Linked DNA regions of Homo sapiens: all the other regions are linked to region 1. The links come from fine-mapping of genetic effects on gene expression. A gene starts in region 1. Each other region holds a variant in brackets. All regions are shown on one strand. Distances are from middle to middle.

Region 1 (6,073 bases):
TATATATATTTTTTGAGACAGAGTCTCACTCTGTCGCCCAGGCTGGAGTGCAGTGACACAATTTCGGCTCACTGCAATCTCCACCTCCCTGCAATCTCTGTCTCGTGGGTTCAAGCGATTCTCCTGCCTCAGCCTCCCAAGTAGCTGGGATTATGGGCGCCTGCCACCACGCCCGGCTAATTTTTTTGCATTTTTAGTACAGATGGGGTTTCACTTTGTTACCCAGGCTGGTCTCAAACTCCTGACCTCAGGTGATCCACCCACCTCGGCCTCCCAAAGTGCTGGGATTGGATTACAAGTGTGAGCCACCACGGCCGGCCAGAAACAGGGTGTTTCTGTTTACAAGAACATATCTTAAAACCATATGTGTGCCTCTTAATAATTTTCATAATTTTTTTAACTTTTGAGAAAGTTTTTTTTTTTTTTTTAAGACGGAATCTCACTCTGTCGCCCAGGCTGGAGTGCAATGGCATGGTCTCCACTCACTGCAACCTCCACCTCCCAGGTTCAAGTGATTCTCCTGCCTCAGCCTCCTGACTAGCTGGGATTACAGGGGCGTGCCACCACACCTGGCTAACTTTTGTACTTTTAGTAGAGATGGGGTTTCACCATGTTGGTCAGGCTGGTCTCGAACTCTTGACCTCATGATCTGCCCGCCTCTAGAGAAAGTTTTTAAAATTGCAAATATCTTGCTTTGAAGAAACAGTTATCTCAAAAAGGAAATAGCTATCTTCAGTTTTTGCTTAACTTTTTCTTGTATGAATTTAAGTAAAATTAAATCAATACATTTTCATTTAAAGAAACTGACATGAAATGCAAAAAAAAGGAAGCCACCTGACTTGTGGCTCCACACAACAAACTGACTAGCATGGACCCATCTCCTGTTGTAACACAGAATTTGCTGGATAAAACATCACCTGAGGCCAGGCGCGGTGGCTCACGCCTGTAATCCCAGCAGTTTGGGAAGCCGAGGTGGGCAGATCACAAGGTCAGGAGTTCAAGACCAGCCTGACCAATATGGTGAAACCTCGTCTCTACTAAAAATACAAAAATTAGCCGGACGTGGTGCCGTGTGCCTGTAGTCCCAGCAACTCAGGAGGCTAAGGCAGAAGAATCACTTGAATCCGGGAGGCAGGGGGTGCAGTGAGCCGAGATCATGCCACTGCACTCCAGCCTGGGCGACAGAGCAAGACTCCGTCTCAAAAATAAATAAATAAATAAATAAATAAATATCACTTGAAATTGTCTCAACAGCAGATGTTGTGTATCATCAGCAGCCACAGCAGCTCTGGGGTGTCTAGGGGTGTCCCATCTGGCATTAGAAGCCCCCAGCTCTTGCACCCACACTGGTAAGGGGAAATTCCAGCCTCAAGCTCCCAGCCAGAGTCACTGTGTGTTGCTTACAGCCTGAAGAAATTAACAGGATACACCAAGCTTCACCCTCAGGAAACAGGAAAAGCAGAACCAGAGGGCAACCGAGTGAGACGTGGACTAGAGCTCCACTAACATCTGGACCTCCTTGCCCCGCGCCACACCAAGGGGCCTACTGGGCGCCACAGGCTAGGCAGGGAGCGCTTCTGTTCCTAGTGCTCCCCACGATGCCCCGGAAGTTCAGGGAGGTAAGAAGCGTAAGGTCAGAGAACTGGAGCCAGCTGTCAACTGCCCCCGCCCCACCCAGGCCATTTGGCTTCTGCTACCGGCATGCTGCTCAGGGCTCTGCCCAAGGACAACGACGAGCCCCCTGTGTCCTCTCCTGGGTCATCTTCCATGACCCTGAGGCAGCGAAGACAAGCTCGGCAGCTCCCTGAGCTGCTTCACACCAACTACCTATGAGTCTGAGGCCAGCATCCAGGCGCTGCCCAGACCCTGAGAGTCCCTGGACCATGACGTAGCCTGTGTGTGAAGGGAGCAAGACAGCCTTGACAGAAGCACAGAGAACGCCACTGGGATTCTTAAAGACGCGAAGGGAAAAGGGTACCTTCAAGAAAAAGCAGGACAGCGTAGCCACACCACCTCTCCCCATCTGGGAATTCTCCAGGTCCAAGTCTTGTACTTAATTCTAATTCTGCTCATCATGTTTCCCTCCCCACCCCTATCCCCAACAGCACAGAAGATGCTGGCGCTGCATCTCCTCCAGCACCGAGAGGCCTCGAGGCCCCAGGGAGCGGAGGCAGGGTTCAGGCACAGCCGCGGGAACGCCCACACCCAGTCCTGCCACACCGTAAAACATGTCTGCGGCATCAACCTCACGCAGGCCTGGCGGACCTGAAGACTGCGACACGGACACTCAAGCCCGCGGCTCTCCGGCCTGGGCTCAGGGCGGGGGGAAGGAGAGGGAACCAGGGGTACCCACACGGCGCTCCTCAGGGACAAGACCCCAGGCTCGGGCCCGAGGCGGGCTCGCTGGAGAGACGCCGCAGCCTCGCGGGGGCGGCCGTGGCTGCGTCCGGGAGACTGACTAGCCAAGGCCCCGCTCCTGGACGCCCTAGCGGGGCGGGCAGCGGCCTGCGGACCCCGCCCGGCCCTCTCGGCGGACTGTGCCCTGGCAAGGCGGCCGGGCTCCGGAGCCAGCCGGGGCTGCGGCTAAGGCGTTGCCCGCCCCCGTCCGGAACGCGCCACTCACCCGGCGCGGGCGGGGAGAGGACGGCGCGAGCCCGACCCTGCAGCCGCTGACTGGACCCCGCCGGCGCGGGCCCCACAGATCAGCCGACAAAGCCTGCACCGCCGCCAGCCCGCCGCGACCGGAAGTCGCGAGAGGCCCCGCCTGGGAAACTTCCTGCGCCGTTCTAGGAGCGCCAGGGATCGGCTCCCCTCTCAGTGGTGCGGACTTCCGGGCCCGGGGACTAAGACCCCCGGAGGGGCCAGGGGTGTCCGGCAGGAGCGGCGTTGCTACGCGGTTGGGAGGGTTGCGGGCCGGGAAGCGCGGGCTCGGAAACTCGGGTCTGGAGCTCGCGGCGAGGTCCGACCGCAGCCCAAGACCAGCTTCTCAGGAGGCGAGGATCCAGGGGAAGTAAATACCGTGAGGGCCAAACTTCACCTCTCTGCGCCCCAGAGAAGTGGGGAAGCGGCGCGCTGTGGAGTTTTTTGGTTTTCGGGTTTTGGTTTTTTTAAGACAGGGTCTCGCTCTGTCGCCCAGGCTGCAGTGCAGTGGCGCGATCTCGGCTCACTGCAGCCCCGACCTCCCGGGCTCAGGTGGTCCTCCCATCTCGGCCTCCCAAAGTGCTGGGACCAGAGGCGCGCGCCACCGCGCCGGCTCATTGATTCTTGGTAGACATTACTCATTGCTAGAATGAGTCACAGTCCGAAATAATCGAAATAATTACATTCCCCTGCCCCCCCCCCCCACCAAAAAAACATTATATTCGTATTTTGGGTTTTCTTTTTCCATTTTTCTGCTAGCACTGAGGAAACTTGTTTACCTAAATTGTTAGATAGGATTGGGAGGAATTTTGTTTTAGCAATGACGCTCAATTTATTTTTATTTTTATTTTTTGAGATGGACTCTCGCTCTGTCACCAGGCTGGAGTGCTGGAATGCAGTGGCGTGATCTCTGCTCACTGCAACCTATGGCTCCCTGATTCAAGCGATTCTCCTGCCTCGGCCTCTGGAGTAGCTGGGATTACAGGCATGCGCCACCACGCACAGCTAATTTTTGTATTTTTAGTAGAGACAGAGTTTCACCTTGTTGGCCAGGATGGTCTTGATCTCCTGACCTCGTGATCCACCCGCCTTGGCCTCCCAAAGTGCTGGGATTACAGGCGTGAACCGCTGTTCCCAGCCGACGCTCAATTTCTTTAGCTCTTTCTGACTTATATGCAAAAAACATAACAGCAGTTTATCACCAAGTGTACTTAATGACCTGTCAGTTGACCACTTGAATAGGTCCTTTTTAAATTTTGACAGAAGCAAACAAAGAATTAGAAGTAACCTAAAGTGCAAAACTACATGAAGTCTTTCCCAGCCAATAAATTCACCTACTTTCTTAAAATCAACTGCAGAGTTTTGAATTGTCCCTTTGATGAGGAGGACAGCCCAGGTACCAAGGCCAGGTACCAGGGTGAATAAAGGAAGAGAAGCAACGTGGGAGAAGGAGCTGTGGCCAAGGGGGACACGCTAGGCGCGTGCCCTCATCCAAGGACCTTCTACAGGAATTCCAGGGCAGAATCCATGTGGAACTCCTGCTGTGATTCTCCAGGGGCTCCCCGGCTCTTGGAAAGGCTTCTGTGTTCCAGGGGTGTGTGTGAAAGCCCTACATTGAGCGACCCCACCTCTCATCCAGGCCCGGAGACCTTGGCTGCTGCAACCCTATTGCCAGCTTACCATGGGACCCAGCTCTTAAGGCGAGAAGGGCTTGAGGCCTCTTCCCCACAGGGCTTACAGACCTTTCAGCCTCCCTGTCCGCAGGCCCAAAGAGCTTGAGAACACCGCCTGAGCAGGTTGTCACAGATCAAAATCTGCCTTGTACACCTGACGCCTGCCACTTCAACCCCACCAACAGCTAACACATGGCTGCAGCTTGGCACTTAATACTTTTTTTTTTTTTTTTTTTTTGAGACAGAGTCTCTCTCTGTCACCCAGGCTGGAGTGCAGTGGCGCGATCTCGGCTCACTGCAAGCTCTGCCTCCCGGGTTTATGCCATTCTCCTGCCTCAGCCTCCCGAGTAGCTGGGACTACAGGCACCCGCCACCACGCCCGGCTAATTTTTTGTTTTTTAGTGGAGACAGGGTTTCACCATGTTAGCCAGGATGTTCTCGATCTCCTGACCTCGTGATCCACCCGCCTCGGCCTTCCAAAGTGCTGGGATTACAGGCCTGAGCCACCATGCCCGGCTGGCACTTAATACTTTGAGTTTACTTGTTTGGTACTGATTGTCCCTGCCAGTAGAAAGGAAGCTCCGTAAGGTCAGGGACCCCCGTCTCGTTCCATGTCTAGCCCAGTGCCTGGCCCATGTGGACCTCAGCAACTGTGGTGGATGCTGCGATGAGAGGCCCCGGGAGACCCCTCCAGTGACAGGCTGGGTGTCCCAGTTGTTCAGGGTGTGGTAAGCGGCCTTCAGCCATCAGCTGCAACTCGCCAGGGTCACACCCTTCCCTGGGACAGCCCACATTGCAAAGTCCTGGACATCCTGGTCCAACCGAGGACAGCCCTGAGGACCACTTCTGTGGCAGAGCTCCCTGTGGGGGACCAGTAGCCGCTGTGCTTGATGGCATCACAGCCCCACTCCTGCCTCTTGTGTCTTCCCCTCCACAGGTCCAACATCACTCCGTGAAAGTCTGCTCCCCACCTAGGAGCCCCCTCGAGCCACAGCAGCCTTGCCAGGTGACTTCTAATATTATCTCCATTTTATAGATGAGGAAACAGAAATAGGGAAACCAAATGGCTCACCTAAGGTATCAGCCAGGACATGCTGGAGGAGGCCTCAGATGTAGCCATCTGCCTCCAAAGCCCTTGACCTAGAGCAAGTACAATGCCAAAACCAAGGAGTGTGGCTGGAAGGCAAAAGGCCCGAGGGGAGGCTGCCATGCAAGATGAGGCTGGCGCTGTTGCCATAACCAGAGCTCAAGAAAGGAAAGCTGTCCAAAGAAACTGCATTCAGCCAGAAAGGGAATTTATAGGGATTTGAGGGGACGGAGCCATTCTGAAGACAAAGCAGAAATTCTGATAAAAGATCCCAAAACATAGTTTCAAGCTATCTGGGATGTGGGGTTTAGGAAAACAGGCCATGGGTGGTCTTGGTACGGGAGCAAGCACAAAACTGTCTGGGAAATGTCCCTGAGGAAGGCCACTGTGTCTTCGGGCCATGAGCAGAGCTTTCCTGCTTTGGGCGAATGGAGTCTGGGGACAAGTTGATGACAATGGAGGGCTGAAGACAGCTTGGGAATTAGTCTTTCCGAGATAACTACTGGGTGGGGCAGATTGTGTGGTCCCGGTCCAAGCCACACAGGAAGCCCACACTGGCTTCTGAGCAGGAGTGTAACAAAAGCCAGATGACACTGGAAAGACACGTTGGCTGCGTGGTGACCACAGAGGACAGGGTGAGGACGGTGGCAATGGCAGCCACACAGCAGAGCAC
Region 2 (6,073 bases), 210 kb after region 1:
CAGGAAGAGCCTGGCCTTCTCCCCAGGGGGCCTTGGTCTCCCCACCTGCCAGCCACTCTGGAAAGCAGATACTCCGGGGCTCTGAGTCAGACACAGAGGTGATGGGCTGACATTTGCAGGACAGGAAAGGGCCACCAGCCCTGTGGGGTCCATGCTTTCCCTTGCCCAGCCCCGACTCCTCCCCGCTGCCCTCATGGCTGAAGCAGCCATACCTCTGCCGTCCCTGGGCCTGGGTGCCTGCTCAGCAGTTCCTGGCCACGGAGTCCAGCCGAGGGCTGGGGAGGCCCAGCAAGGGTGCGGGGCAGGGCCTGAGTGCCCCCGCTGTCCCAGATTCAAGCCCAGCCTGGCCCCACCCTCACAGGGGCCCACCTCCCTAAGGCTGAGGGTCCTGGCAGGTTGTCGGGGGCAGCAAAGGCTGAGACCAGGGCGAGGGCCCAGATGGTCCCGGAGAGCGTGGATGGGACGGACCTGGGGGAGACCTTTCCTGATAGGAGCTGGGAGGCGCGTGGAAAGTCGGGGCGTGAGGTGGATGCAGGTTCTGTGTTCGACCTTGATGGTGTAATCCCTGAGGGTGCACGGGGAGGGGCAGCACGGGGTGGACTTTGGGGGTGCAGCATGTGGGTCAGCAGGGAGAGCCCGAGGCTGTGGGCTGAGCCGGGGAGGGTGGAGGCCTGCGGGGTCTTGGCTGAGCCTGGCTCCTAGGGGGTCTCGAGGTGGGGGCAGGCAGCTCAGACAGGAGTACCCTCCAGGGTCCCTGAGAGGAGGCATTTGGATCCCCGGGCTCCCAGGGAGAGGGTGGCGGCCGAGGGACCCTGAATTAGGGAGTCTGGGGTGGCAGGGGAGACTGGCGGGGCAGGGCCAGCCAGGGCCCGGGAAGTGGGACCGGTGCTCAGAGGACTCGGAAGTTGTGGGGGAGGAGGCAGGGCCTGGGAGAGGGTCTGAGGCGGGAGGCTGGCCCAGGAGGAGGGGAAACCGCTTCCTCACCTGGGAGGCGGAGGAGGTGGGGGATGGGGGAAGGGAGTGTACCCCGAATCAGGAGGTGGCAGGAAGGTGGGAGTGGCTTGGAGCCCACACCCTCGACCCCCACACACAGTCGGCAGTCCGCATGGGGAGCAGTGACAGAGGAATTTGCGGCTGGCGGGCTCAGCGCCTGCCTAATTTGCAGTGACACCGCTCAGCTGCCCAGGGCTCCAGCTGTCACAGCCAATTAGCCCGCGGCCGGGGAGGAGCGCCGGGCAGGGGGGCGGGGGGGCATGAAGGGGTCGGCGGGGGAGGCTGTGGGGGTTGCAGGAGGGGTAGGCGCAGGAGGAGGCCTGTGGCCTTCAGGTCCGGCCCGCCCCCCCAGGCACCCCAACCTGGCTGTGGAGAGCAGCAAGGTGGGGTGCCCCCCAACAGCAGCCCACCAGGCCTGAAGCCCCTCAGCCGCAGCCCTTGCTGCCCCTTTCAACCCTGGCATTCCCCTGAGCCTTGCCACCTCTTCCATGCCGGCCTCTGGGACTCCAGTGCCCTTGACCCCTGGCACCCGAGTTAGGTGTCCTGAGGGCAGCTGGGATCAGTTCCAGCCTGGAGGATAATTCCTCTCCACATTCAGGCCACCGCCTTCCCAGACAGAGCCACCTTGGCCCCTGACTTGCGTCTGTGGCCCAGCCCCTCCCTCCCATGTGGCGGGCTCCGCCCTGGGGCCTCCCCGACTCCACTGCACCTCCCGGCACCCACTCAGCGTGGTCTAGCTCGCAGGGGATGGCCCCTTTGCCTCCCTCCCACCCAGTCCTCAGAGGCTGACACAGGGAGGTATCTGGAACATGCCAGGCGCCAGCCCCATGGGCCTTGATCGCCTCCCCGGAGCAGCCTGGGAGCAGCAGTGAGCGTGCAGGCAGGGTGCTGGGCACAGAAGAGTCCCAGGCTGCTGGCGGGGCCCCGCGGGACTCTAGGGGACTCTGGCTTCTCTAGGAAGGAGGGTCCCGGAGTCCCTTCTCCTGCAGCACCCTTGCTCCCGTCTCCTGGCTGGGACCCAGGTGTCTGGTCACCTCCCCCAGAGGGGTGGGTCTCAGGGACAAGCCATGTCCTCCGGGAAGCCACATGCCCTGGGTGGCCCCTCTCCAGCCGCCGCCTCTGCCCAGCTCTTGGTACAGATGCCCCAGGGGAGCTGATGCCCTGGGGGAGGGGCGTAGCCCACGGCTCCTCTGCGACAAGGGAGTTTCAAACACAGGGGCCCTGGCTGGGCCCACCCCACCCATCCCCAGCTTCTCCCTGCAGCCTCTGGTCTCCTCTCTTCAACCCCAAGGCTGCCCCTCCGCACAGAAGCCGCCCATGGCTGTCCCGGCCCTCCAGCCCACCCTCCTGAGGGATCTGCCCGCCTCCCACCCCCGGCCTCAGCACTCCTGGTGTGCTCCTCCTCACGGGAAGCCCTCTGCCGACCCCACAGCCCCCTTCGTCCCGGAGCACGGAGCACGGAGCACGGCTCGCCTGTCTCAGAAGCGTTAGGCCCCGCAGGCGCCTGGCCCGGCCTCGGCTCCAGCTCCACCCTCTCTACTGGGGCCCTGCCGTTGCCCCTGCTCCCCCGGCCGGGCGGGGGTCTCCTGCCCATTTGCTGCAGTGCTGGGGAGGGGCTGTGCTTTGCCGAGCGGGGCACTGGCGGTGCAGCAGAGGCGTCAAGAGGCGGCACCTGTAGACACGCAGTCGCGGTGTGTGAGACGCGCGGGCTGGGGCGCGGCAGGACGCAGGGCAGCGGTGCTGGGACCATTACCCCAGCGTGGTGGCGCGGGCGCCGCAATCCCGGGCGGCACGAGGCTCAGGTATGGGAAGAGAGACGGGAAGATGAATTGCAGACTAAGCCAGAGGGTGGCCAGGAAATCGGGAGAGGAAAAGGGCGGGGAGGGAGGGGGAAGAGCCCGCCGGGCCTCCAGGAGGCCTCGCCTGCCCGTAGGTGGCTGGGCCTGTGTGTATAAAGTCGGGGCTGGAGCGGCTGCAGGGGAGCAGCCGTGAAATGGGGGCAGGGAGGGCGGCGAGGAACTGGGGACAGATCCTGGGGCCACTGTGGGGGCAGCAGGGGCCCCTGCTTCTGTGTAGAGAGGATCGTGGGGGCACAGGCGGGAGCTGCCACAGTCCAGGGAGGTCGCTGGCCCGGCCCCTCACCCTTCTGTTCCTGCTGGCGGTTCCCTGCAGAGATGGTTCCTCACCCACCGTCTCTGCCCTCTGGGTCCTGGGCGTATCGCATGGGGGACGGGACACTCTGTCCGCCTTGTGCCCTGCCTGGGCCCGCTGCCCTATGGAAGAGCAGGAGGCCGGCACGGGTGCCTCCGAAGGGCAGCCTCGCAGCACATCTGAGGGTGCTTGGTGCACCGCCCTGGCACCACCATACCTGAGAGCTCAGGAGGTGCGGGTGGTGCGGAGGGCTCGCGCGGGGGTGGCTCTGCGAGTCTGGGAGGAAGGCTCTGGTCTCCTCCTCACCTTGTCCACGCGTCTTCTCTGGAGCAGGGTGGGGGCTGCCATCGCCTTGGAGGCGGGTCAGGCGGTGGGGCGTGGGTGGAGACGGGGCCTTGGACCTCGTCACTGGCCTTGGTTAGGTCAGGTGGGCACCTCCCCAGCCCCCCGGCCCAGTCACCAGGCCACCCCCGCCATGGTGGCAGAGGGGCTGGACTGGAGTCGGCCTGACCTCTGCCCTTCCCCAGCTGGAGGTAGAGCGGGGGCCGTCTCTCAGGGCTCAATCACCTCATCTGTAAGAAGACGCT[C/GAGTTCTCCCCTGCTC]CTCCCATCGGCCATCCACACAGGGGCCTCATGAGCAGTAAAGAGAGGGACCCGTTCAGCAAGCCCTTCGTCAATCTGAGAAGGCTTCTTGGAAGAGGGGGCTCTGTTCCGAGGGGAGGGCGTGGAGTGGGATGTGCCTCTCCAGGTGCACCGGGGCGGGATTTACAGGGGTGCCCCCAATCCAAGACCGGAGATGTCTTGGCCACGTCTGTGGGGCTTGCAGAGGGGCCTGGGGGAACAGAGCTTGGCTCCTGGCAGGAGGGGAGCAGGGAAGGAGCAGGCATGGGAGGGGCACCCAGAGCTGCCATCCATGGGGGGTCCCCAGCTCAGCCCAGCTCAGCTCCCAGAAGGCTTTCCTCCCCCTACTCAGCCGCAGTGCGCTGCCCATCACTGCAGTCCCCACTCCTCCTTTTCAAACCCCTCATCCGCTGGGTCTGTCCCCTCACCCTCCCTTCCACAGCCCTTCCCAGAAGGTAAAACCCAGCCCTGCCCAGACCTGTGTACTAGGGACAGAACAGCCCCAACTCCTCCCACTTTCTGCTGAATTTGGGGAGCTGACTTAAGCTGAGTTCAGAAACTCTGGGGCCCTGGACAGGGCGCTTAGGGCCACGTTGAGGTTACGATCAGGAAGGTATGACGTTCAGCATTCTCCAAAAGAGAATTATTTCTGCAGGAATTCATGTGACAAGCCCAGACACACTCCTGGCTCCCGCTGTCTAGCACTCTTTAGCCATTAAATCTTACCCACCCACATACACGTAAATAACATTTAAAACGCACTATATAATAATGAATACAAAATATGTTGTCTAATCATTCTTACCTGGAAAGACCTTTATGGAAAATTCCAGGGCCAGGCTGAGCTGCTGCCCACACCCACAGGCTAGCAGAATCCAAGAGGGACAGTGTGGGGGCGGGAGGGCCACACGGACCCCTTCCTTCCCCCAGACCTCCTTTCTTGGTGACAGGGAGAAGGAGCAAGGTGAGGAGGCTTCTCCACCGTGAGTCTCAGACGGAGAGCTGTGCCCTCATTCACCTTTGGAACCTCTGACCTGAGGCACCTTGAGACGCAATAATATTAATACCTTAACTGCAAGACTCCGCGACTCACAGAGAGATGTAAGTGCAGGTAACAGAGAGCTGAAGGAACAATGACTCCAACAAATTCAATGGAAATTTAATTTCTATGTTGTAAAAGTCCAGAAGCTGATGGCCCAGGGTGGCCGTGGTGACTGCTTCACAGAACGCTCTGGATTGAGGCTCTTTTCATCTTGGCCTGTACTCCCAGGGTCTCCTGGCCCACAATGTCAGCTTCCACTCCAACCATCACATCTGCATTTGAAGATGAAGAAAGGTGAAAGAGGTAAAAACAAAAGGAGCATATGAGGTGATGGGTGGATGAACGGACAGACAGCTGGACGTGTGACAAGAAAGATGAGGAAGACAGCAGGATGGGTAGGAACGGGAGGATAGTGGCTGGATGGAAGGATATATGGATGGTTGATGGTGGGTGAATAAATGGTGTGTAGATGGGTGAACAGGTGGGTGAGTGGATACGTGGATGGTCAGTTGGGTGGATGGATGGGTGGATGGGTGGATGGATGGATGGGATGGTGGGGGAATGGGGAGATGGGCAGATGAGTGGGTGGATGATGGGTGGGTGGATGGATGGAAGGGTGCGTGGGTGAGTGGGTAGATGGGTGAGTGGTTGGGTAGGTGAGTGGGTAGATGGATGGATGGGAGGATGAGGCATGGGGGAATGGGGGATGGGTGGGAGTGGGTGAGTGGGAGGAGGGTGAATGAATGGATGGGCGGGTAAGTTGGTGAGTGGGTGGGTGAGTAGGGGGTATGGGGGTGAGTGGGAAGATGAGTGGGTGGGTGGGGGGGTATGGGGAAGAGTGGATGAGTGAGTGGATGGGTGGGTAGGGGGTTAGAGAGTCAGTGGATGAGTGGGTGGGTGGGTGGGGGTTGGAGGGTGGGAGGATGAGTGGGTGGGTGGCTGGGTAGGGGGTTGGAGGGTGTGTGGGAGGATGAGTGGGTGGGTGGGGGGTAGGGGGCTGAAGGGTGGGTGGGAGGATGGGTGAGTGTGTGGGTAGGGGGTTGGAGGGTGGGAGGATGAGTGGGTGGGTGGGTAGGGGGTTGGCAGGTGGGTGGGAGGATGGGTGGGTGGGGGGTTGGGGGTGAGTTGGTGGGTGGATGGGTGGGTAGGGGGATGGGGTTGCCTGGGTGGGTGGTTTAGGAAGCTGTGGAATGACTCCAAACGTGGAGTGAGGGAGCTCAGTTTGTACCACCGAACCTTTGCTCATCTCTCCCCTGGGCCCTCTTCCCTCTTCTCTCCAGAG
Region 3 (6,073 bases), 36 kb before region 1:
TCTCTAAGAATGAGTGGTGTGAACATCCTCTCATGTGCTTATTGGGCCATTCTTTTCTTTACTTTTTTTTTTTTTTTTTTGAGACGGAGTCTCACTTTGTCGCCCAGGCTGGAGTACAGTGGCGTGATCTCAGCTCACTACAACTTCCACCTCCTGGGTTCAAGCAATTCTCCTGCCTCAGCCTCCCGAGTAGCTGGGATTACAGGCACCCACCACCACGCCCCGCTAATTTCGTATTTTTAGTAGAGACAAGGGTTTATCCATGTTGGTCAGGCTGGTCTCGAACTCCCAACCTCAGGTGATCCGCCCACCTTGGCCTCCCAAAGTGCTAGGATTAGAGGTGTGAGCTACCACGCCCAGCCTATTGGGCCATTCTTGGGAGAGAGGTCTAATTAGTCCTTTGCCTATTTTTGAATCAGGTTGTTTTTGGGGAGTCGTTTTCTGGAGTGTTCCATGGTAAGTAGGTCTATGTAAACCTGTCTCCAAAGTCCGAGGAAGCTGAGAGGTCAAAGAAAAAGGCTAACAAACCCAGTTTCTTAGAAAGAAACACTTAACAGGGACTTAGAAAAAGAAGCCATGTCTGTCTTGGCAGCGGCAAGAGGAGATACTGGATCCCACCATTGCCCCCGCCCAGGGCTTGTGTACCACGGGGAGGGTTGGGAGGGAAGTGCAGGACAATGGGCGGCATCAGGGCCGTCTGACCCTGCGGCAGGGTTTATAGCAAGTGCCTGCCCTTACACAAGGAACAACAGATCACCTGGAAACGTCGGAGGCCTTCCCTGGACGGGTTAGTCGAAAGCCCACACAATAGTCACCATCCAGGCTGGAGCGGCTTTGGCCTCCACAAGGAGTTCCTTCGATATTTTGGATATGAGTCCCTCATCGGACACGTGATTTGCAGATATTCTCCCGTTCTGTGGGGAAGGGGCAGCTTTTCACTCTTTTAGGAGTGTCCTTTGATGAACAAAAGGCTTTAATTTTCACGAAGCCATTTGGCTGTTTGTTGTTGTTGCCTGTACCTTTGGTGTCCAAGGAATCATTGCCAAACCCAGTGTGTGTCAAAAGCTTCTGCTCCCAGTTTCTAACAAGAGTTTACTGTTTCAGGTCTTGCATCCAGATCTTTGATCCATTTTTACTTTTTATTTTACTTTATTTACTTATTTTTTTGAGACAGTCTTGCTCTGTTGCCCAGGCTGGAGTGCAGTGGCGTGATCTCGGCTCACTGCAACCTCTGCCTCCCGGGTTTAAGGGATTCTCCCACCTCGGTCTCCCAAGTAGCTGGGATTTCAGGTGTGCACCACCACACCTGGCTAATTTTTTTTTGTATTTTTAGTAGAGACAGGGTTTCACCATGTTGGCCAGGCTGGTCTCGAACTCCCGACCTCAGGTGATCCACTCTCCTCAGCCTCCCAAAGTGCTGGGATTACAGGTACAAGCGGTGCAAGCCACGGTGCCCAGCATGATCCATTTCTAGTTAATTTTTGTATGTGGTACTGACGAGGGTCCAACTTCATTCTCTTGCATGTATCACACTTTCCCAGCAACAGCCACTGTAACCTCTACCTCGTGGGCTGAAGCCATCCTCCCGCCTGAGCCCACCACGTAGCTGGGCCTGCAGGAGTGCATCACCACACCTGGCTAACTTTTCAAAATTTTTTGTAGAGACAGGTCTCAATATGGTGCCCAGGCTGATCTGAAATTCCTGACCTCAAGCAATCCTCCAACCTTGGCCTCCCCAAGTGCTGGGATTACAGGCATGAGCCATGGTGCACCCTGGCCCCACCAGGAGATTGTATATCCATGGGTACTGGTGACACTGGGCCTCAATAGAACAATTCCATATATACTGTATATGATTCCATTCACAGGACATTCTTGAAAAGATGGAATTACAGAAATGGGCCAGGCACTGTGGCTCATGCCTGTAATCCCAGCACTTTGGGAGGCTAAGCGAGGTAGGCGGATCACCTGAGGTCAGGAGTTCCAGACCAGCCTGGCCAACATGGTGAAACCTCGTCTCTACTAAGAATACAAAAATTAGCCAGGCATGGTGCATGCCTGTAATCCCAGCTACTTGGGAGGCTTGGGAAAATCTCTTGAACCTGAAAGGTGGAGGTTGCAGTGAGCTAAGATCGCGCCACTGCACTCCAGCCTGGGCAACAGAACAAGACTGTCAAAAAAAAAGAAAGAAAAGAAAAAGAAAGAAAGAGAGAAAGAGAGAGGGGAGGGAAGGAAGGAAGGAAGGGAGGAAGGAAGGAGAAAAAAAGAAAAGAAAAGGAAAGGACAAGAAAAGAAAAAAGAATTACAGAAATGGACAGAACAGATGAATGGTTGCCAGCCCTGAAGGAGGGTTGGAGGGAGGGAGTGGGTGTGGCTGTGGAAGGGTGAGGACCATATCCTGACTCTGTGAACATCAATACCCCAGCTGTGTGCACTGCAGGGTTCCAGGTGCTACCACTGAGGGAGGTAAAGGGTGCCCAGCATCTCTCTGTAAAACACCTTACAGCTGCATGCAAATCTAAAATTATCACAAAAAGCTTAATTAAAAATAAATAAACGTGTTCCTGCCTAGCTGCCTGGTCTAATTAAATTAGGGTGGGTGCA[T/C]GTGGGACCTGGCTGCCGCAAGTGACGCCAGTCCATAACCGGGGCTGACACCATTGCCTCTGGGGTCCCCACCAGGTCCCCCGCCCTGCGCAAGGCACAGGTTACCTTTACTGCTAAGGTTCTAACTATGTGAACCCCTTCTAAAGGGCGAGCCAGGGAGAGAGGCCCCAGAGGGCCGGCACTCTCCCGAAACCAGCTAGGAGAGGATGCGGACACCACACAGAAGGCCCATCGCACCCCTTTGGTAAACCGTAAGTCTCATAATCCCAGCAGTTCAGGAGGCCGAGGTGGGTGGATCACCTGAGGTCAGGAGTTCAAGACCACCCTGGCCAACATGGTGAAATCCTGTCTCTACTAAAAATACAAAAATTCGTCGGGCATGGTGGCGTGCACCTGTAATCACAGCTACTCAGGAGGCTGAGGCAGGAGAATCGCTTCAACCCAGGAGGCAGAGGTTGCAGTGAGCCGAGATCTCACCACTGCACTCCAGCCTGAGTGACAAGAGTGAAACTCTGTCTCAAAAAAAAAAAAACCCTTAACTAATGGGTACAAAAAAATTAGAAAGAATAAGACCTAGTATTTGATAGCACAACAGGGTGACTATATTCAATAATAATTTAATTGTACATTTTAAAGTAACAGAGTATAATCGGATTGTTTGTAACGCAAAGGATAAATGCTTGAGGGGATGGATACCCCACTATCCATGATGTGACTATTACACTTTGCACGCCTGTATCAAAACGTATACCCCATGGGAGGCTGAGGCAGGTGGATCACTTGAGGCCCGGAGTTCGAGACCAGCCTGGCCAACATGATGAAACCCCGTCTGTACTAAAAATGCAAAAATTAGCCAAGTGTGGCGGTGCTCGTCTGTAGTCCCAGCTACTCGGGGGCTGAGGCAGGAGAATCACTTGAACCTGAGAGGCGGAGCTTGCAGTGGACTGAAATCACGCCACTGCACTCCGGCCTGGGTGACAGAGTGAGACTCTGTCTCAAAAAAAAAAAAAAAAGAAACAAAAACATGTACCCCATAAATACGTACGCCTACTATGTGCCCACAAAAATTCAAAACAACGCAAAACAAAACCTCTTAACACCAAATCCTAAAACTCTTAGTCTTCATATTTGATTTCTTTTTTTGAGGCAAGGGCTTGCTCTGTTGCCCAGGCTGGGGTGCAGCAGCCCGACACAGCTCACTGCAGCCTAGACTTCCTGTTGTCCAGGCTGGTATCAAACTCCTAGACTCAAGCAATCATCCCACCTCAGCCTTCTGAAGTGCTGGGATTATAGATGTGAACCACTCCAACCCCATATTTGATTTTTGTACAGCAACAGTTCCCAGATATAAAAACAGGCTAACCATGATGGCTCACAGCTTTAATACTAGTGCTTTAGGAGACTGAGGCAGGAGGATCATTTGAAGCCAGGAGTTAGTTTGACACTTGCCTGGTCAACATAGTGAGACTTCATTTCTACAAGAAATTTTTTTAAAATTAGCCAGGTGTGGCCAGGCGCAGTGGCTCACTCCTGTAATCCCAGCGCTTTGGGAGGCTGAGGCAGGTGGATCACCTGAGGACAGGAGTTCAAGACCAGCCTGGCCAATATGGTGAAACCCTGTCTCTACTAAAAATAAAAAATTAGCTGGGCGTGGTGGCAGGCGCCTGTAGTCCCAGCTACTCGGGAAACTGAGACAGGAGAATCTCTTGAACACGGGAGGCAGAGGTTGCAGTAAGCAAAGATTGTACCACTGCATTCCAGCCTGGGAGGTTGCAGTCAGCTGAGATCACACCACTGCACTCCAGCCTTGGCAACAGAGTGAGACTCCATCTAAAAAAAAAAAAACACAAACAAACGAAAAAAAGAAAAACAATTAGCCAGGTATAGCATTCCTGTAGTCCTAGCTCTTCAGGAGTGATATGGTTTGGGTCTGTGTCCCCACCCAAATCCCATGTCAACTGTCATCCTCAATGCTGGAGGTGGGGTCTGGTGGGAGGTGATTGGATCATGTGGGCGGATTTCCCACTTGGTGCCCTTCTGGTGATAGTGAGTTCTCTTGAGATCTGGTCTGTTAAAAGTATGTGGCACCCCAGCCTCGGCATCGTCTGGGAAGTGAGGGGCACCTCTGCCCGGGTACCCCCACTGTCTGGGAAGTGAGGAGCGTCTCTGCCCGGGTCCCCCGACTGTCTAGGAAGTGAGGAGCGCCTTTGCCCGGCTGCTGTGCAACCCTCCAAATGTGAAGTGATAGCCTTGTGTGTAATCTTTCTACCTGCCCCAAGTTTGCATTTTCAACATTAAAGTTTACTTTTTAACTAAAAGTTTTAAATTGGAGAATTAAAAAAAAAAAAGTATGTGGCACCTCCCCACTCCTCTCCTCCTCCTGCTCTGGCCATGGAAAACGTGCCCACTTCCTGGGATTACAGGTGTGAGCCACCACACCTGGCAGGAAGTTTTGAAGTAGACTCGACATAATTGGATTTACATTTGTTAGATACAGTGAGTTCCTCTTCAAAGGTTCCACTTTACAGCAAACAACCTTCCAGCCACTCCCAATCTATAACCCAATCTGTAACCCACATCTGTTCCCAATCTGCAGCCCAATCTGTAAAACCCACATCTGTTCCCAATCTGCAGCCCAACCTGTAAAACCCACATCTGTTCCCAATCTGCAGCCCAACCTGTAAAACCCACATCTGTTCCCAATCTGCAGCCCAACCTGTAAAACCCACATCTGTTCCTTATTTGGCCACTGTAGCCGCCCCTGATCCATTTGAAGTAGCCAATGGGGATCGGCTTAGATGGTGTGGTGCGACTCCAGCCAATGGGGACTGGACACAGTAGCAGGGCGTGACTGCTTTAGGGATAAACACCCCTGCCCTGCTTTGTTCGGTGTGCTCTCCCAGTGGCCAGAAGAGAGAGCGGCACTCTTCTGCAGAAGTAAATTTGCCTTGCTGAGAAGGCAAATTTGTGAGCACTCAAAAAAAAGCCAGTGGAAGTTTTTTTTTGTTTGTATTTTGAGATGGAGTTTTGTTCTTGTTGCCCAGGCTGGAGTGCAGTAACACAGTCTTGGCCCACTGCAACCTCTGCCTCCCAGGTTCAAGCGATTCTCCTGCCTCAGCCTCCTGAGTAGCTGGGATTACAGGTGTCTACCACCAGCCCTGGCTAATTTTTTGTGTGTGTTTTTAGTATTTGAGTGCTCATTTTCTTTTTTTTTTTTTCTTTCTTTTCTTTTTTTTTTTTTTCAGACAGAGTCTTGCTCTGTTGCCCAGGCTGGAGTGCAGTGGTGCAATCTCAGGTCACTGCAAGCTCCGCCTCCTGGGTTCACGCCATTCTCCTGCCTCAGCCTCCCGAGTAACTGGGACTACAGGTGCCCGCCATCTTGCCCGGCTAATTTTTTGTATTTTTTTTAGTAGAGACGGGGTCTCACCATATTTGCCAGGATGCTCTAGATCTCCTGACCTCGTGATCT
Region 4 (6,073 bases), 29 kb before region 1:
TCTGCAAGACTCACGGGGATCCACCCATGGCATTGCAAGTGAAGTTGGCTGGGGGTGAGCAACACTGAGTGTGCTGGCAGCCACATGGCAGGAACAAGAAGAAAACAGAAGAAAGTGCAGAACAGGAAGAGAAGCACTTTCCTCCTGCAGGGTCCCTCCAGTGCCCTCTACTTACAAAGCTTAACGTCATACCTGCTTTAAAGGAGAAACAATTTAGGGCCCAGCTCCATTTTCACCAAGCAGGCGATGAAGTATGTATTTGAAGCTGAAAGACAGTAAATGGAGAATTGGCAGTTTCAAGCCTCAGTTGGGCCCTTGGTTTTCTCAGTACTCACTCTGTGCCTCCCAACAACTAATCTTCTTTCTGATTCTCCAAGTAGCTCTTTCAACACTCCGTAAAAATCCTATCCACCATCTTTCTTCCCACTTGGAAGAAAACCTTGCCTTTTTTTTTTTTTTGACAGGGTCTCACTCTGTCATTCAGGCTGGAGAGCAGTGGTGCGATCTTGGCTCACTGCAACCTCATCCTCCTGGGCTCAAGAAATCCTCCCACCTCAGCTGCTTGAGTAGCTGAGACAACAGGTGCATGCCGCCACGTCTGGCTAATTTTTGTATTTTTTGTGGACACGAGATTTTGCCATGTTGGCCAGGCTGGTGTCAAACTCCTGGGCATCTGCCTGCCTCAGCCTTCCAAAGTGCCAGGATTATAGACCTGAGCCACCAAGCCTGGATCTTGTCTCTTATTTTACAGGGAAAATACATAATAATGTGTGTTTGATTACAATTGAATAATGCAGGCTTTGGGAAATCCACCTGTTATGGGTTGATTTGTTTCCCCCCAAATTGAAATGCTGAACCTAATGCCCGGTACCTGAGAATGTGATTGGATTTGGAGATAGGGCCTCTAAAGAGGTAGTAAAGTTAAAATGGGGCCTTTGGGTGGGCCCTAACCTGATCTGACTAGGGTCCTTCTAAGAGGAGGAAATTTGGATGCACAGAGAGACATGGGATGTGTGTTTGCACAGAGGGAGGGAGGGCCTTGCGGGGACACAGCATGGGATGTGTGTGCACATGGAGGGAGGTAGGGCCTCGAGGGGACACAGCATGGGATGTATGTGCACATGGAGGAAGGAGGGAGGGCCACGCATGGACACAGCGTGGGATGTACATGCACACGGAGGAGGGAGGGCCACGTAGGGACACAGGATGGGATATGTGTGCACATGGAGGGAAGGAAGGCCTCACGGGGACACAGGATGGGATGTGTGTGCACACGGAGGGAGGGAGGCCACGCATGGACACAGCATGGGATGTGTGTGCACACAGAGGAGGGAGGGGCACGCAGGGACACAGGATGGGATGTGTGTGCACACGGAGGGAGGGAGGCCACGCATGGACACAGCATGGGATGTGTGTGCACACAGAGGAGGGAGGCCACGCGGGGACACAGGATGGGATGTGTGTGCACACAGAGGAGGGAGGGGCACGCAGGGATACAGCATGGGATGTGTGTGCACACGGAGGAGGGAGGGGCACGCAGGGACACAGGATGGGATGTGTGTGCACACAGAGGAGGGAGGGGCACGCAGGGACACAGGATGGGATGTGTGTGCACACGGAGAGAGGGAGGCCACGCATGGACACAGCATGGGATGTGTGTGCACACAGAGGAGGGAGGGGCACGCAGGGACACAGGATGGGATGTGTGTGCACACGGAGGGAGGGAGGCCACGCAGGGATACAGCATGGGATGTGTGTGCACACGGAGGAGGGAGGGAGGCCACACAAGGACACAGCAAGAAGGCGGCCATCGGCAAGCCAAGGAGAGGAGCCTCCGGCAAAACCCAACCTGGGACACTTTAGTCTCTTCTGGCTTCCGGAACTGTGAGAGAATAATTAATTTCTGTTGTTAAGTAACCTACTCTGCAGTATTTTTAATGGCACCCTGGTGTAACTAACATACTACTGGTGTTGGAGTATTTTATAACTTGTGGAGGCCATGGAAGCATCCCCCGCGCTGTCAGGGAGGCAGAATGTCCTGTGAAAGGAACAAAATCACTTTGGACACACCTGGCAACTGGGCAAAACCTCAACTGGTTCCTTGATCAACAGAGTGAGTCTTGTAGTGGGAAAATCAAAGTGGAAGCTCCTGCAACTCTACCCTCTGTGGAGAATGGCAGGCGTTAAGGCCACCTGTGAAGACGTAAAAGATCCGCACTCGCCTTGCTCCCATCCCCCTCGTCCCCAGGCTCCTCGTCCCAGTGCCCCTAGTCCCTGTGCCCCTCGTCCCCACCCACCTTCTTCCTGTCCCTTGTCCCCACCCACCTCATCCCCATCCCCCTTGTTTCTGTCCCCCTCATC[C/T]CCGCCCACCTTATCCCCATCCCTCTCATCCCCATCCCCCTTGTCCTCATCCTTCTTGTCCCCGTCCCCTTATCCACCTTGTTCCTGTCCCCTTAATTCACATCCCCCTTTACCCTGCCCTCCTTGTCCCCATCCCCCTTATCCCTGTCCCTCTTGTCCCCACCCGCCTTGTTCCATCCCCCTCATCCCCATTCCCCTTGTCCCCATACACTCCCTTGTCCCTGTCCCTCTTGTTCTTGTCCCCCTTGTCCCCATCTGCCTGTCCCCACCCGCCTTACAATCTGGAAACCCAACCCCTGCGGAAGCTGCATGACCGTGGTGGACAGCAGTGGACTACCACAGGCTTAAACAGTAGTAGCTGAGGCACGCTTGTGGCCATCCACATGGTCTTTCCAGAAGAGACTGATGTGGCCACGTGCATGTGGTTTTTGGCTACTGGTCTGATAAACACATCATTTCCGAAACCTGTTTGGAAGGGGAATCGGAGCAGTTCCTGCCCACGCGGGGCCAACAGCGGCACACAGGTACGGTCGCTCCAGAACCGAGTGGGGTGCCTCGTCCCAACATGGCCCAAAGGCCTGACCCACTGGATGGTCCACGAGCAAAGGTTGGCCCATTCAGTGGATGCCTTAATGGGCACTGGACTCATGCAGAGATAGCAGGTGCGCTGATGGCCTCAGAAAAACACGGGCGCTGTGGAGGGCAGGAGGCAGACTCCGTACACTTCAGAGACCTGCCCCATGAGCAATGTTCTCAGGGTGCGGTGGCCTGTAGGGTGCTGGGGCAGGCCCGATGCCTCTTTGGGCTTGAAGGCAATATGTTCTGCCCTTGGCGGGGGAGAGGGAAAGCCGTCGGCTCTGAGTGGGGTCTGGAGCAAGGGAAGGGGCTGAGGCAGGCCCAGGCTGGGTGACAGGCAGTCCTGCCACGTGGGTCATGTGGCCGTGAAGTTCCCACAGGCTTCACATGTGTGGCAAAGACACGAGTGGCGCCCATGACGAGCCTCAGTGCAGGATGTGCAGCCCAGGCCCAAGGCCACCGGCGCAGGGCCCCGTCATGTTCAGGGGACTCCACCAGCTGGTAGGTGGTGCGGGCAAGTGTTCGGGCCCTGACCGTGGAGGCCACGGTGTTTATGAGACTGGCGCTGCCCATCGTGACTGGGTGCTGTCGGAGCTACCAGTCGCACATCCAAGGGGCCGTCAGGAGTTTACTGGGAGATGGAAGTGGAGTCCAAGATTGGGCTTGGGCAGGTCCAGAAGGCACAAGGATGGCCCAGGTCCCCGTGCCACCCTCTATTCTCCACTGGGCCTCTCCCCAAGCCCATGCCTGTGGCTCCATGGGGAGGTCCCCGAGCCCTGCTGCAGGAGACGGGTAGTCTCGTACCTGGCTTACGGGGGGGCCCGGTGTGCTCTGTGGCCCTCCAGTCAGAGCAGGGCTCCTGCAGCAAGGCAGTCGGTGAAATGCAGCTCCAGCCCACCTCACAGTGGCCCAGTGGGTCCCTGAACCCAAAAGGCAACACTAGAGCTCCACAGCCTAGAAGCCGCACACCGCAGCGCGCCGTCTTCACCCTTCCTTGGCTATGAGCTCTTCCAGGCAGCACAAAGCACAGGGAAATGCCCCAGGGTGACGATGTGACTGCTTGCAGCCTGCTTTCAAAAAGAACGCCAGGAACACAGGCAGGAAAGGTGGGCAGGAGAGAGAATGAGACTGATAGCCACCAGGTAGCTGACTCCAAATTAATAGGATTGTCAACTCCTTACCAATTTATATTTACCGGTTACATAAAAAATGGTACAGTGACCTCCCCTTCCAGCCATGATTAACAAGTATTGGACTTGCCCTCCTGCCCTAAACTAGAAAGCTGGACAAAATCCATGCAACAGCTGCTGTTAGATGTTGGAGGGTGCAGTGCTGTGACCTGCCCAGGAGGATGGAGATGGGGGGGGCACCTCCCATGATGCCAGCTCTCTGCCTGGTGGCATTTTCTAGAATACAGCATATGAAGGGGAAACACAGGCATGGTATCAACTCACTAAGTTGAGGAGGCAGAGGTTGGACTCTGGGGAGGTACAGAAGGCTCGCATTTATGGGGTCCAGTACGAGAAAGAAACTGGGACCCATGAAGAGGAAGTCCCCAGTGCTGCCATGAGTGTTTGGATGAACGTTAAGCTGCACACACCATGGGGCCAGGCCACAAGCCACGGGGAGCTGACAGCAGACAATCCCCAAATAGCTTGCAGGCCTGGGAGGTGCTCAAAGTGTGATGAGCCAGAGTGGTGGGCCTTGCTGCCCAGTGGCGGCACTCAGTGAGAACTGCGAAGGGTCCAGCCCTACCAGGAGCACGGCTAACCTGGAGTAAAGGCCGCTGTAGACCAGCCTCAGCCAAGCTCAGAAACAAGCCTCAAAGGACTAAGCTGATCTACAGTCATTAAGCTGCCTGCAAAAAAATTCAATAATTTTGAAAGGAAGACAAATTTCAGACCCTCAACAATGTAACATTCACAATATCTATCAAAAAAATTACTAAACACACAGAGGTGAAAATGTCACCCATAGCCAAGAGAAACATCCATCAGCTGGAGAACATCCAGGCCGGGTGTGGTGGCTCATGCCTGTCATCCCAGCACTTCGGGAGGCTGGGTGTGCAGATCACTTGAGGTCAGGAATTTGAGGCCAGCCTGGTCAACATGACAAAACCCCATCTCTACTAAAAATACAAAAATTAGCCGGGCGTGGTGGCGTGCATTTGTAGTCCCAGCTACTCGGGAGGCTGAGGCAGGAGAATCGCTTGAACCTGAGAGGCAGAGGTTGCAGTGAGCTGAGATCGCGCCACTGCACTCCAGCCTGGGTGACAGAGTGAGACTCCATCTCAAACAAAACAAAACAAAACCCTGAAGAACATCCAGACATGATAAAGATGGTGGAATTAGCAGATAAGAACTTTTAAAAAGCCAAATGAGTAATTTCACAGGTTTAAAGGAAAACGTGGTAATGAGGAAAGGAATGAAAGGTATAAAGAAGAATCCAGTAGAACTTCTACAGCTGAAAAACCTACATCTGAAATGAAAAGTTCAATGGTGGAATGAACATGAGACCACAAAGGCTTCTGAACCTAAGGTGACCTTTTAGAAATAAAAACAAAACAAAATAAACAAACAAAAAAGACCTCAAAGGCAAAAGAAAAGGTCAATGGACTTGAAGACAAACCCACAGAACATGCCCACATTGCAGCACAGCGAGCGAAGGGGCAGGAAGGCACCAGCAAACAGGGCCACAGTGCCCCGAAGGCGAGCGAAGGGGCAGGAAGGCACCAGCAAACAGGGCCACAGTGCCCCGAAGGCGAGCGAAGGGGCAGGAAGGCACCAGCAAACAGGGCCACAGTGCCCCGAAGGCAAGTGAAGAAGGAGCAGGAAGGCACCAGCAAACAGGGCCACAGTGCCCCGAAGGCAAGCGAAGAGGCAGGAAGGCACCAGCAAACAGGGCCACAGTGCCCCGAAGGCGAGCGAAGGGGCAGGAAGGCACCAGCAAACAGGGCCACAGTGCCCCGAAGGCAAGTGAAGAAGGAGCAGGAAGGCACCAGCAAACAGGGCCACAGTGCCCCGAAGGCGAGCGAAGGGGCAGGAAGGCACCAGCAAACAGGGCCACAGTGCCCCGAAGGCGAGCGAAGGGGCAGGAAGGCACCAGCAAACAGGGCCACAGTGCCCCGAAGGCAAGT

What was found. PIP is the estimated chance that this variant, and not a neighbour inherited with it, causes the effect.
Region 2: its variant is the best candidate, but not a certain one, in a credible set for the expression of ZNF623 in prefrontal cortex (GTEx, PIP 0.61).
Region 3: its variant is the best candidate, but not a certain one, in a credible set for the expression of ZNF623 in putamen (GTEx, PIP 0.50).
Region 4: its variant is the best candidate, but not a certain one, in a credible set for the expression of ZNF623 in anterior cingulate cortex (GTEx, PIP 0.67).

The regions. Positions count from the first base shown.
Region 1 is chr8:143,632,696-143,638,768 of GRCh38, reverse strand. ZNF623 (zinc finger protein 623) reads right to left here and starts at 2,750. Exons shown (of 2, transcript NM_001261843.2): 1 at 2,624-2,750. LOC105375798 (a long non-coding RNA gene) reads left to right here and starts at 4,865. Exons shown (of 3, transcript NR_188083.1): 1 at 4,865-5,319.
Region 2 is chr8:143,417,965-143,424,037 of GRCh38, reverse strand. MAFA-AS1 (MAFA antisense RNA 1) reads right to left here. Exons shown (of 3, transcript NR_186795.1): 3 at 4,888-5,063. Among named protein-coding and RNA genes, the nearest start is that of MAFA, 9.7 kb to the left of the region's middle. RefSeq lists an enhancer at 958-1,545. The variant C/GAGTTCTCCCCTGCTC (reference allele first, on the strand shown) is at 3,732.
Region 3 is chr8:143,668,720-143,674,792 of GRCh38, reverse strand. No RefSeq gene overlaps it. Among named protein-coding and RNA genes, the nearest start is that of ZNF707, 13 kb to the left of the region's middle. RefSeq lists enhancers at 4,746-5,246, 5,247-5,747. The variant T/C (reference allele first, on the strand shown) is at 2,605.
Region 4 is chr8:143,662,037-143,668,109 of GRCh38, reverse strand. It overlaps LOC105375799 (a long non-coding RNA gene), which reads right to left and starts at 4,992. Exons shown (of 4, transcript XR_928737.3): 1 at 3,742-4,992; 2 at 2,071-2,193; 3 at 193-265. The variant C/T (reference allele first, on the strand shown) is at 2,362.